Linked DNA regions of Homo sapiens: region 2 is reported to be linked to region 1. Evidence: microRNA targets listed by miRTarBase, many of them from high-throughput screens and not tested one by one. Region 1 holds a microRNA gene; the other region holds the end of a gene's coding sequence.
What was found. Region 1 holds the annotated microRNA hsa-miR-548ap-3p (AAAAACCACAAUUACUUUU, at 2,018-2,036, opposite strand). A microRNA usually pairs through its seed, bases 2 to 8, with sites in the 3' UTR of a target mRNA and lowers its output. Matches are read on the target gene's strand: a 7mer-m8 pairs with bases 2 to 8, a 7mer-A1 pairs with bases 2 to 7 and ends in A, and an 8mer does both.

Region 1 (5,385 bases):
TCCTTTGATAATGTATATACAGTGGAAATTTTATTATTTTTAGATACTGTGTGTCCTACCTGGTGCTACCAGCACTTTTTTTCTTTTTCTTTTCTTTTTTATTTTTTTGAGACAAGGTCTTGCTCTGTCACCCAGGCTGGAATGCAGTGGTGCAATCTTGGCTCACTACGTACAACCTCAGCTTCCCAAGTAGTAGGACTACAGGCACAGGTCATGTCACCATGCTGGCTAATTTTTTTTTTTTTTTTTAATAGAGATGGGGTTTCCCTATGTTGCCCAGGCTGGTCTCAAACTCCTGGCCTCGAGTACTCTTCCCACCTCAGCCCCCAAGTTCTGGGGTTACAGGCGTGAGCCACCATGCCTTGCCTTTTTTTTCTTTTTGATGTTATATATTGTTTGAGAACTCTTAAGTTCCTTTGTGAAATTATGCTTTATAAAATGTCTTCTAGGATTCATTTGTGGGGGGTCTAACAACCGTCTGTTTTCCATTGATTTCAATTTCTGTGGGCCATTTGGGATGTTATTTTATAGATTTTTTTAATCCATTGGAAATAGTGAGGTGCCCTGAGAAAATTTATTCACATGTAATGCGTTAAATCTTACAAAAGAAGAAATATTACTGAATGATATAGACTGTGTTCATAGTATTAATCTCTTCTCTCTTATTTTTAAAATTTAGTTCTATTGTTTCCACCCTGCTAGCTCTTATGGATGGATTGGACAGCAGAGGGGAAATTGTGGTCATTGGTGCTACGAACAGGCTAGATTCTATAGATCCTGCTTTACGAAGGCCTGGTCGCTTTGATAGAGAATTCCTCTTTAGCCTGCCTGATAAAGAGGTAAGAATTTAATGTCACTCAAATTTTGACAAAATATATTGCTGTTTATTAATAATAAGTCTTGGTATAGTAAAAATTTGGAGATTCTTGAGTTTTGTATCATGGTCTTGTCAAATGATAGTAAACAACTCAAATGGGGACAAATTTTTATTCTTTTCTTTAAATATAATAATGCCTTCCCAAAATTACTCTTAAAATTATTTCAATTTGAGTGTAGCCTTTGGATGTTCTAAGTGTTGCTTCAGAACATATGGCTTAATGAGTAATCAATCCTTAGCCAGTTTGTTAGCCTTGTCTTTTTCATGAATATCATCATATAATCCTACCGAGTTTTTTTAAGTCTACTTAATCTTCTGGGAACCAAAGAGGAAAATATGTCAAGAGCTGTCTGTACTCTTAAAAACAGCTCTTAATATGCACCAGAATGAATAGCTACTTTAGTAGTTACTTTTCTCTTATTTGTGTTTATGACGAATATAACTTTAGTGCTATAAATGCAAATATGTTTAATAATGAGACTTAAGTTCATTAAACTCTTAAAAGTACATCCTTTTTCTTATTTTCACTTTCATATTTTGCTTATATTGAGTTTTTTTGGTTGGTTGTTTATGATAAAGTCTTGCTCTGTCACCCAGGCTGGGGTGCAGTGGCACAATCTCAGCTCACTGCAACTTCCGTCCCCGGGATTCAAGCAATTCTCGTGCCTCAGACTCCCAAGTAGCTGGGATTACAGGCACATGCTACCACGCCCAGCTAATCTTTGTATTTTTAGTAGAGAGTGGTTTTCACCATGTTGGCCAGGCTGGTCTTGAACTTCCAACCTCAAGTGATCCACCTGCCTCGGCCTCCCAAAGTGCTGGGATTACAGGTGTGAGCCACCGCACCCGGCCAGTATTAAGTACTGATCACTTTAAAATTTTAGATAATCAAAAGTATTTTAATCAAAATTAATGTAATCTGAATAGCATTTATTATTATAGTTGTAAAAAATTAAATTGTTTTTATTCATAGGCTCGAAAAGAGATTCTAAAGATTCACACCAGGGATTGGAATCCCAAACCACTGGACACATTTTTAGAAGAGCTAGCAGAAAACTGTGTTGGTAAACATTGTTTTAAGCAGTTAAAATAAATACTACATTTATTTCAAATATGAAACAAGTTATATTAGGTTGGTGCAAAAGTAATTGTGGTTTTTGCCTGTAAAAGTAATGGCAAAAACCACAGTTTCTTTTGCACCAGACTAATAAAGAAATACAAGGTTATATTTGTTTCTTATCTCTTATTTGTGGCATTTTCTTCTCATGAAGTCTTGGTATTAAATAGAGATATTTGACAAATTGGCCATCAGGGGCAGAGTAGATAATAATATAATTGTACAAAATACAATATATTATTATATCATAATAAGATAATAGCTATTCTTTACTGACCATTTTGTAGTCATCCTTTTAAGCATTTTACATATATTATTTCATGTAATTTTCACATCATTCCTGTGATGTAGGTAGCAGTATCTCTACAGATGAAGAAATGGCTGGAGAGCATTATGTGAATCTTCTAAGGTCATACAGCTAGTAAATTACAAACTGGAATGTGAATCTAGTCTGTGTGATTTTAAAACTCTTGCTTTTGACCTCTGTGCTATACTTAGTGCTTGTGTATTGCACTCTTAAAAGTTGATTGATTGTTGATGGCCATTACTACCCTATAAGTTTACTGGGTAAAAGAGATTTTGGTCTTATTACTCTTAAATATTTGCTAACTATATTCCGAGGCTGATTTTTAATTTTTTTTTTAACCATGGTCATGCTAATAGAGTTTTGTGTTTCTTTGTTTGGTCGGCTGGTTCTTTTCTTCCCCTGGTTGCTTTGGATAGGATACTGTGGAGCAGATATTAAATCAATATGTGCTGAAGCTGCTTTATGTGCTTTACGACGACGCTACCCACAGATCTATACCACTAGTGAGAAACTGCAGTTGGATCTCTCTTCAATTAATATCTCAGCTAAGGATTTCGAGGTAGCTATGCAAAAGATGATACCAGCCTCCCAAAGAGCTGTGACATCACCTGGGCAGGCACTGTCCACCGTTGTGAAACCACTCCTGCAAAACACTGTTGACAAGATTTTAGAAGCCCTGCAGAGAGTATTTCCACATGCAGAATTCAGAACAAATAAAACATTAGACTCAGGTATAAAACTTGATTGACCATTTAAAGTTAGTTTTTATAATCAGTAAAGTGAAATGTTTCATACATACCAGAAATATTTATTTGTAAAAGAATCTCTTGAAAAGAATTTGGTAATGCTTTACCTGGGATATTTGAAGGAAATTTACTCCATGGATTGCCCTTAATTTAACTTATTGTAAGTTTGGGGTGCATTTTTACATTTACTTATTAATTCATATCTACACAAATATTTTTGATTCTTTGAAAAAATTTAATTGAAGTATGCTGACTTGGTAACTGAAGCAATAAAGATTTGCTTTGCAATCCAAAAGTTACTAATGTACAATTTTTTGGTTTTATAGATATTTCTTGTCCTCTGCTAGAAAGTGACTTGGCTTACAGTGATGATGATGTTCCATCAGTTTATGAAAATGGACTTTCTCAGAAATCTTCTCATAAGGCAAAAGACAATTTTAATTTTCTTCATTTGAATAGGTATATTTTTCTTGCAAATCAATGTTTTTTGCATGTGTAAATTTTCTAAAAATAAATGAGATGTGGTTGAAAAAATAAAAAGTGCTAACCAATCTGCTTTTTATTTAAATTAAACTACCAGAAATTTTTTGTTGTTACAGTTGTCACAACAGTAGAAATTACAGTCTATAAAAATATTCCTAAAAACCTTTGGGGGTCAGTTTCCAGAAACTATGTGAACCATGTTATGATTGGTTGGCCTTATTGGCAAGACTTTTTACTTATGAAAGTTTATAGTTGACAATTTAGGGGGAAAATTTAAACTGTTTTTTCTAAAACATAGCTTATTAATCATTTCTCTTTCAGAAATGCTTGTTACCAACCTATGTCTTTTCGACCAAGAATATTGATAGTAGGAGAACCAGGATTTGGGCAAGGTTCTCACTTGGCACCAGCTGTCATTCATGCTTTGGAAAAGTTTACTGTATATACATTAGACATTCCTGTTCTTTTTGGAGTTAGTACTACATCCCCTGAAGAAACATGTGCCCAGGTAATTTGTTGGTGCCCAAGTATAAGACAAAACAGGCTTTCAGAGGCAAAAGCTAAAATTGCCCCATTTTTTTGTATTGTGTTTTTTTGTCTTTCTGATTTGTAACTTTAGGTTTACAAAACAGAGTTATGCATGATTGCTTAGTCATTAAAGAGAATGACTTTAAATCCCACATTCACCCTTAATATCTTTGTGACCTTAGTAAAGTTGTTAGATCTCTCTAATTTTCCCCTTTTGGAAAATGGAGATAATACTACTTACCTCACATGGCTGTTGTGAGAATTAAATGAGTAAAGTACTTAAAATGGTGACTGCTCCTTAGTAAGTACTCAGATATTCTGCAGTTTCTGTTTTTGGTATTTGTATATTAACTTTTTTTTGTTTGTTTTTGGTTTTGGTTTTTTTGAGACGGAGTCTTACTGTGTCACCAGGCTGGAGTGCAGTGGCACGATCCTGGCTCCCTGCAACCTCCGCCTTCCGGGTTCAAGCAATTCTCCTGCCTTAGCCTCCCGAGTAGCTGGGACTACAGGTGCAATGCATGCCGCCACACCCAGCTAATTTTTTTTTTTTTTTTTTTTTGTATTTTAATAGAGACGGGGTTTCACCATGTTGCCCAGGATGGTCTCAAACTCCTGGGCTCAGGCAGTCCACCCGCCTTGGCCTCCCAAAGTGCGTGGATTATAGGCATGAGCCACCGCGCCTGGCTATATTAACATTTTTAAAACATAAAAATATTTTATATTTGTAGTTTTGTTTACTTTTGATTACCACAATAGAAAAATCTTCTAGATTTCTCCAGCTGTTTTCTAGTTGCTTGAAGAAATTATCTTTTTCCAAAAAAATGAAACTTTTAATCCACATTTAAAAATAAGGTTGTGGGATTTTGGAGAAGCATTTTAAAAACTTGAGGACTTTATATGTTACTCCTGGGAGGTTAAACATTGTTTCAGACTAATAGAACTAGCATTATTAACGTGCTGACTCTAACTGAATTTGTTTTGTTCTCTCTCTACTAGGTGATTCGTGAAGCTAAGAGAACAGCACCAAGTATAGTGTATGTTCCTCATATCCACGTGTGGTGGGAAATAGTTGGACCGACACTTAAAGCCACATTTACCACATTATTACAGAATATTCCTTCATTTGCTCCAGTTTTACTACTTGCAACTTCTGACAAACCCCATTCCGCTTTGCCAGAAGAGGTAATTTATGTGGGGCGGTATCATTATACTTTCAAAAAGAGTTGTTTCTACCACAATAATCATAACTTATTGAAAAAATTCAAATGCTGTAGAAGTGAATAAAAGGATAAGTTTTCTTATCAAATATACCATTGGTAACTATTTG
Region 2 (5,385 bases), not on the chromosome of region 1:
TCCCTCAGCAGTCAAGGTAACACGTCTCAAGATATTTAAAAAATATATAACCGGCCAGGCATGGTGGCTCAAGCCTCTAATCCCAGCACTTTGGGAGGCCGAGGCGGGCGGATCACGAGGTCAAGAGATCGAGATCATCCTGGCTAACACAGTGAAACCCCATCTTTACTAAAAATACAAAAAAATTAGCCGGGCATGGTGGCGGGTGCCTGTAATCCCAGCTACTCAGGATGAGGCAGGAGAATGGTGTGAACCCGGGAGGCGGAGCTTGCAGTGAACAGAGATCGCGCCACTGCTCCAGCCTGGGTGACAGAGCAAGACACCATCTAAAAAAAAAATATATATATATATATATATAAATAATATGTATATAATATATAATATGTATATTATATATAATATACATTATATATATAAAATATATATAATATGTATATAATATATATATAAAACCTAAATCACATCTTATTCCCAACTTCTCATTCTTATTGGTGTATCTGCTTTCTGTCTTTTATAGAGACAGGGTCTCGCTCTGTCACCCAGGATGTAATGCAGTGGTGTGATCATAGCCCATGCCGAGTTGAACTCCTGGGCTCAAAGCATCCTCCCATCTCAGCTTCCCAAGTAGCTAGGACTACAGGTGCATGCCACCATGCCCAGCTGATTTTTAAGATTTTTTTGGTAGAGAAGGGTAAGGGGGTCTCACTATATTGCCCAAGCTGGTCTCAAGCTCCTGACTTCAAGTAATCCTCCCGCTGCTGCCTCCTCCCAAAGTGTTGGCATTACAGGCATGAGCCACCACACCTGGCTTGATGTATATTCAAAGGGACACTTAGTAAAGGTAGGGAGCAATGCAAAAGAGGGGGCGCAGAGAGAATAAGGCTCTGCCAACTTTTTGATCTCTGGGTAGCTTAGACCTCACACATTTTTTTTTTTTTTTTGAGACAGAGTCTCACTCTGTCACCCAGGCTGGAGTACAGTGGCATGATCTCATCTCACTGCAACCTCCACCTCCCAGGCTCAAGCAATTCTCCTGTCTCAGCCTCCCAAGTAGCTGTGATTATAGGTGTGTACCATGGCACCCAGTGAATTTTTGTACTTTTAGTAGAGACAGGGTTTCGCCATGTTGGCCAGACTGGTCTTGCACTCCTGACCCTTAAGTGATCAGCCCGCCTTGGCCCCACAAAGTGCTGGGATTACAGGCATGAGCCATCACACCCAGCATTTTTTTTTTTCCTTTTTGAGACAGTCTCATTCTGCTGCCCAAGCTGGAGTGCAATGGCACGATCTCGGCTCACTGCAACCTCTGCCTCCCAGGTTGAAGCGATTCTCCTGCCTCAGCCTCCCAGTAGCTGGAATTACAGGAACACACCACAATGCCTGGCTAATTTATTTTAGTAGAGACAGGGTTTCGCCATGTTGGCCAGACTGGTCTCAAACTCCTGACCTCAGGTGATCCGCCCGCCTCGGCCTCCCAAAGTGCTGGATTACAGGCGTGAGCCACCACCCCCAGCCTGGACCTCACACATTCTTGCAGAGTTAGCTAGCCACAGGCAAGTCTCCATTGAGCCAGAAACATCTGTGGCAGCTCTGGGGTTGAAACACACAATTTATTTTGTCTATGCTCTTTCCATGGCAACACCCAACACTCTATGGAAGCTTAATCAGCTTCCTTGGGGTGGGGGAGAGAGATAAACCAGGATATAGACACACACTCCATCACCTTCAAAAGGAAGAATGTAGGTCAGCATCTTTGCCACTACTCTAAGTGAAGCAGCCTATGATCCTGGCAAAAACTGCTAACCACAAGCCCATCCCATCCCATCCCACTAAAACTCCTACCACCTTCCTGAAGCTCTCAGCTTCAGGGAGAAAAGCCAGCAAGGAAAGGGCTTTCTTCCTCAGCAGTCTGAATTACACTTAAGACTTTACTGACAAACATATATCAGCTTTTGCTCCCACAAGGGCAGCAGAAGCCAAGCAGGGACACTAAGTCTGCTTCATGCATCATTGACAGAACCAACCCTGTTCCAACTGCTAAAGTCTTAAGAGCAGCAATGACCTAGAAATTGACAGTGAGGGGAGAAGAAAAGGAAACTAACAAATCAGTAGACAGAAAACTCTATTTCCAAAACCAGGGGAAAGGGAAAGATAGAGGGGAAAGAAATTTGGCCCCTTTGAATCTACCAATGTGATTTTGGCTGGAAGCCAGGGAGGATACATAGCAGCCCCACTGCGAGTCAAGCCATGTTCCTGACTCAAGCCCTACAGTTAAGAGGAAGGCGCCAAGCCTCAAACACAATGAGGTGGGGAGGCTGCTCCTTATTGGGCAGGATCCTACTGTGGACACAGAACAGACAGCAGCTGCCCACAGTGTGGAAACAAACTGTAAAGCAGTCACGTCTCTTAAGGCTGCAGCATCCAATAAAATGTAATTTAAATCAAGCTTCGCATCTGTTCTCAATCCCATTCAGTCTCTGCTTTCCATCAGCCTTCGGACAATCTTTGCAATTATGCATGTTAACCCTTATAGTCCCAGACACTTTCCAACCTTCTAGGTATAGAACTGTGTTTCCATGTTCAAACTACCTTCAGAGGGAACGAATACTCTAGTAAAGGAGTGTGAGAACAACATTCAGACTCATGCCTACAGACTATCATGTGCTACACACACCAGTGGGTAGTGTTCATTTCAGAGGGCTCTCTCTGCTTTCCTTGCCTCTATCCCATACCACCTGTTGTAGCTCAGATCACATTACACGGATACAGTGGTCAGGATGAATGAAACAGTGGCCAACAGATCACTTGTACACATATCAAGTTCCAAATGGAAGGCCATGTCAGAAAGGTAGAGGCGGCAGCAGGAGAGCTCAGGGAAAAGCAGACTTGGTCACTGGCTCTCAGATCATTCGTATCACACATGGTTTACATTTCAAGCATTTGCTTCAGTTATGAAAGGACAGCAATCTCCCAAACAAATCAAACTAGAACTTCCCCCTTTCCCTCAAAACTACCTCAGCCTCAAGCATCCCCTTTCAAAGTAGTCAATGTTATAAGGGTGCCCTCTGGTGTCTCAGTCACAAATTGCCATTTAATGCCACCAAACCAAACCCAGAAGGCTCTTGATTAACCAACCATATGGACTAATTTATCTAATAAGACTGGAAAAATGTGTTTAGATGAAAACCCAACCCCAAAGTAGTCATCTTGAAACAAGTGGCTTCATCTAAGGGCAGCAAAGACTGTGGGACAGCCTAGGAAGGAATTTTCACATTGACTTCTGAAAGCTTGAGCTCTCTTGAAATCTGATTGCTTAAAAAGACAAAGAATGCAACTTGAAAATAAATATATTCACAATCTGTAGAGTTATAGTCTCCTTATGACCCCAACGCCCTTGGGAGTGCCCAAGAAACTCAACGAGTCTAAAATGCCACAATGTTGTAGTATCTGCACCATGAACATAGTATACTATACAAAGAAATAAATTCTTTAACCAGTGTCCTCCAAATCTCCATGTGGACTTGCTTGCATTTTTCTGGATCATTTTCATTCTTCTTACCCTAAACTTAAAGTTCTTAACAAAATACCTTAATGGCTGAGCATGGTGGCTCACGCCTATAATCCCAGCACTTAGGGAGGCCAAGGTGGGCAGATCACTTGAGGGTCAGGAGTTCAAGACCAGCCTGGCCAACATGGTAAAACCCTGTCTCTACTAAAAATTAAAAAATTAGCTGGGCGCGGTGGTGGGCACCTGTAATCCCAGCTACTCGGGAGGCTGAGGCAAGAGAATCACTTCAACCTGGGAAGCGGGTGCTGTAGTGAGCAGAGAACGCGCCATTGCACTCCAGCCTGGGCAACAGGGTGAGACGCGCCTCAAAAACAACAACAACAAAAAAAACAAACAAAAAAATACCCACTCATGTTTGAGCAAACGAAGAGGTAAATATACACACATTCCTCTACACAGATCTGTACACTTGCAAGCACATTGGCTAGAGATACACAAGTGGTAGAAGTAGTGAATGTAATTAAAAAGGGTCTACCTGGTCACTTTTATGGGTAAAAATAGTAAGACCCAAAGATATTATTCTGTGCTAATATTAAAGAATCTATAGATTAAAATTCATTGGCTTCAAGTAAAAAAGGTCATATTTGTTTTCAGGCCCGAATGTGTAAAGCACTAAAATGAAGACTGTAGCTCTCTAAATGCCAGCTGAATACTTTCGGGTGGGGTGTAAGAGAAGAATTTAAGGCAATCCAGTAGCTAAGATATTTCCAATTAAAGCTTTATCTTTCAGAGCATGTTCTATTTCTTTCTCTTCAATCTTGAAAAACACCTGGAAAGAAGAGAAAAGGATTTTTCACACTGGGGAACTCACAAAAGCAAAGTTGTCAGTATACAAACTTCTACCATATTAAACTTTTTCTCACAAAAGGCAAGCAAGTTAAACACTTTTTTTTCCAATGGCTTGAAAAAATATTCATATCACACTCCCATCTTTACACACCTTAAACCTTACCTAACAAAAAACGACTTGTTTAACTAACTGTGGTCATCTTGTTTAACAATAAACCTTTACTTTAGCATCACTCTACAAAATAGGACAATTAAAAACACTGTCACAAAAAAGCAGTTGTACCTTTGTCAAACGGGTTTCCTTGTTTCTCTTTAATCCTAAAATGCCCCTGGCTTCCAAGAGCCCTGAAAGTGACAAACACTCTGACTGGTCCACAGCCGCCACCTGCTGTTTGCGACAGACTTTACTGTAGGCTTCATATAACTGGTAGGAAACAAGGGAGAACAAACGCTGCTTAAAAGTCACATTGCTTATAGCCTTTAATCATTTAAGAAACCTGAGTCTGGGTTTGCAAAAACTTATCTGAATACCCTATTTCTTCCTCTTTTCAATAAAATCTTTGAACAGGCTTCTGTAGATATTCCCGAAAACCTATACAGTAATGTAGGAAAGGGGCTTTATATATTTCCTAGAGAGATGCAGAAATGAAGGGGAGGATAGGGAAAGGATTAATGATAAACTCTCAACCACAATCCAAGGGAAATAGGTGCCTTTTATATAGTACCAGTATTAATTCTTACTGTTAAAATCCATTTTAAATTTATTATCAGCTGAAGTATCATAGGCCTTTTGGAAAATACCTGCTCTGCAAAGCAGATTCTGATCTCTACCTCCGTTCCATCTGCTCCATCCCAACTTACCTTCCCCAGAGTGACCTCTTTGATTTTCAACTGCCTGATCAAGAGCATCAAAGAGCAAACCAAGATCTTCTGCTGAAGAGGGAAGGAATCTTGTGCTCCTTCTTGGCTCAAGGTCATCCTGTTACCATCAACTTCTGAGATGACTTGGGATATGTGAATAAGACCAA

Region 2: miRTarBase lists CDC6 as a target of hsa-miR-548ap-3p. Seed matches in the 3' UTR shown: 7mer-A1 at 3,697-3,703 and 7mer-m8 at 2,131-2,137.

Annotation. Positions count from the first base shown.
Region 1 is chr8:123,344,739-123,350,123 of GRCh38, reverse strand. It overlaps MIR548AA1 (microRNA 548aa-1), which reads right to left and starts at 2,090; the gene lies at 1,994-2,090. ATAD2 (ATPase family AAA domain containing 2) reads left to right here. Exons shown (of 28, transcript NM_014109.4): 14 at 680-839; 15 at 1,851-1,941; 16 at 2,718-3,032; 17 at 3,374-3,506; 18 at 3,852-4,038; 19 at 5,055-5,240. MIR548D1 (microRNA 548d-1) reads left to right here and starts at 1,994; the gene lies at 1,994-2,090.
Region 2 is chr17:40,300,864-40,306,248 of GRCh38, reverse strand. It overlaps CDC6 (cell division cycle 6), which reads right to left. Exons shown (of 12, transcript NM_001254.4): 10 at 5,219-5,385; 11 at 4,641-4,781; 12 at 1,592-4,337. The coding sequence ends at 4,248. Among named protein-coding and RNA genes, the nearest start is that of RARA, 5.6 kb to the left of the region's middle.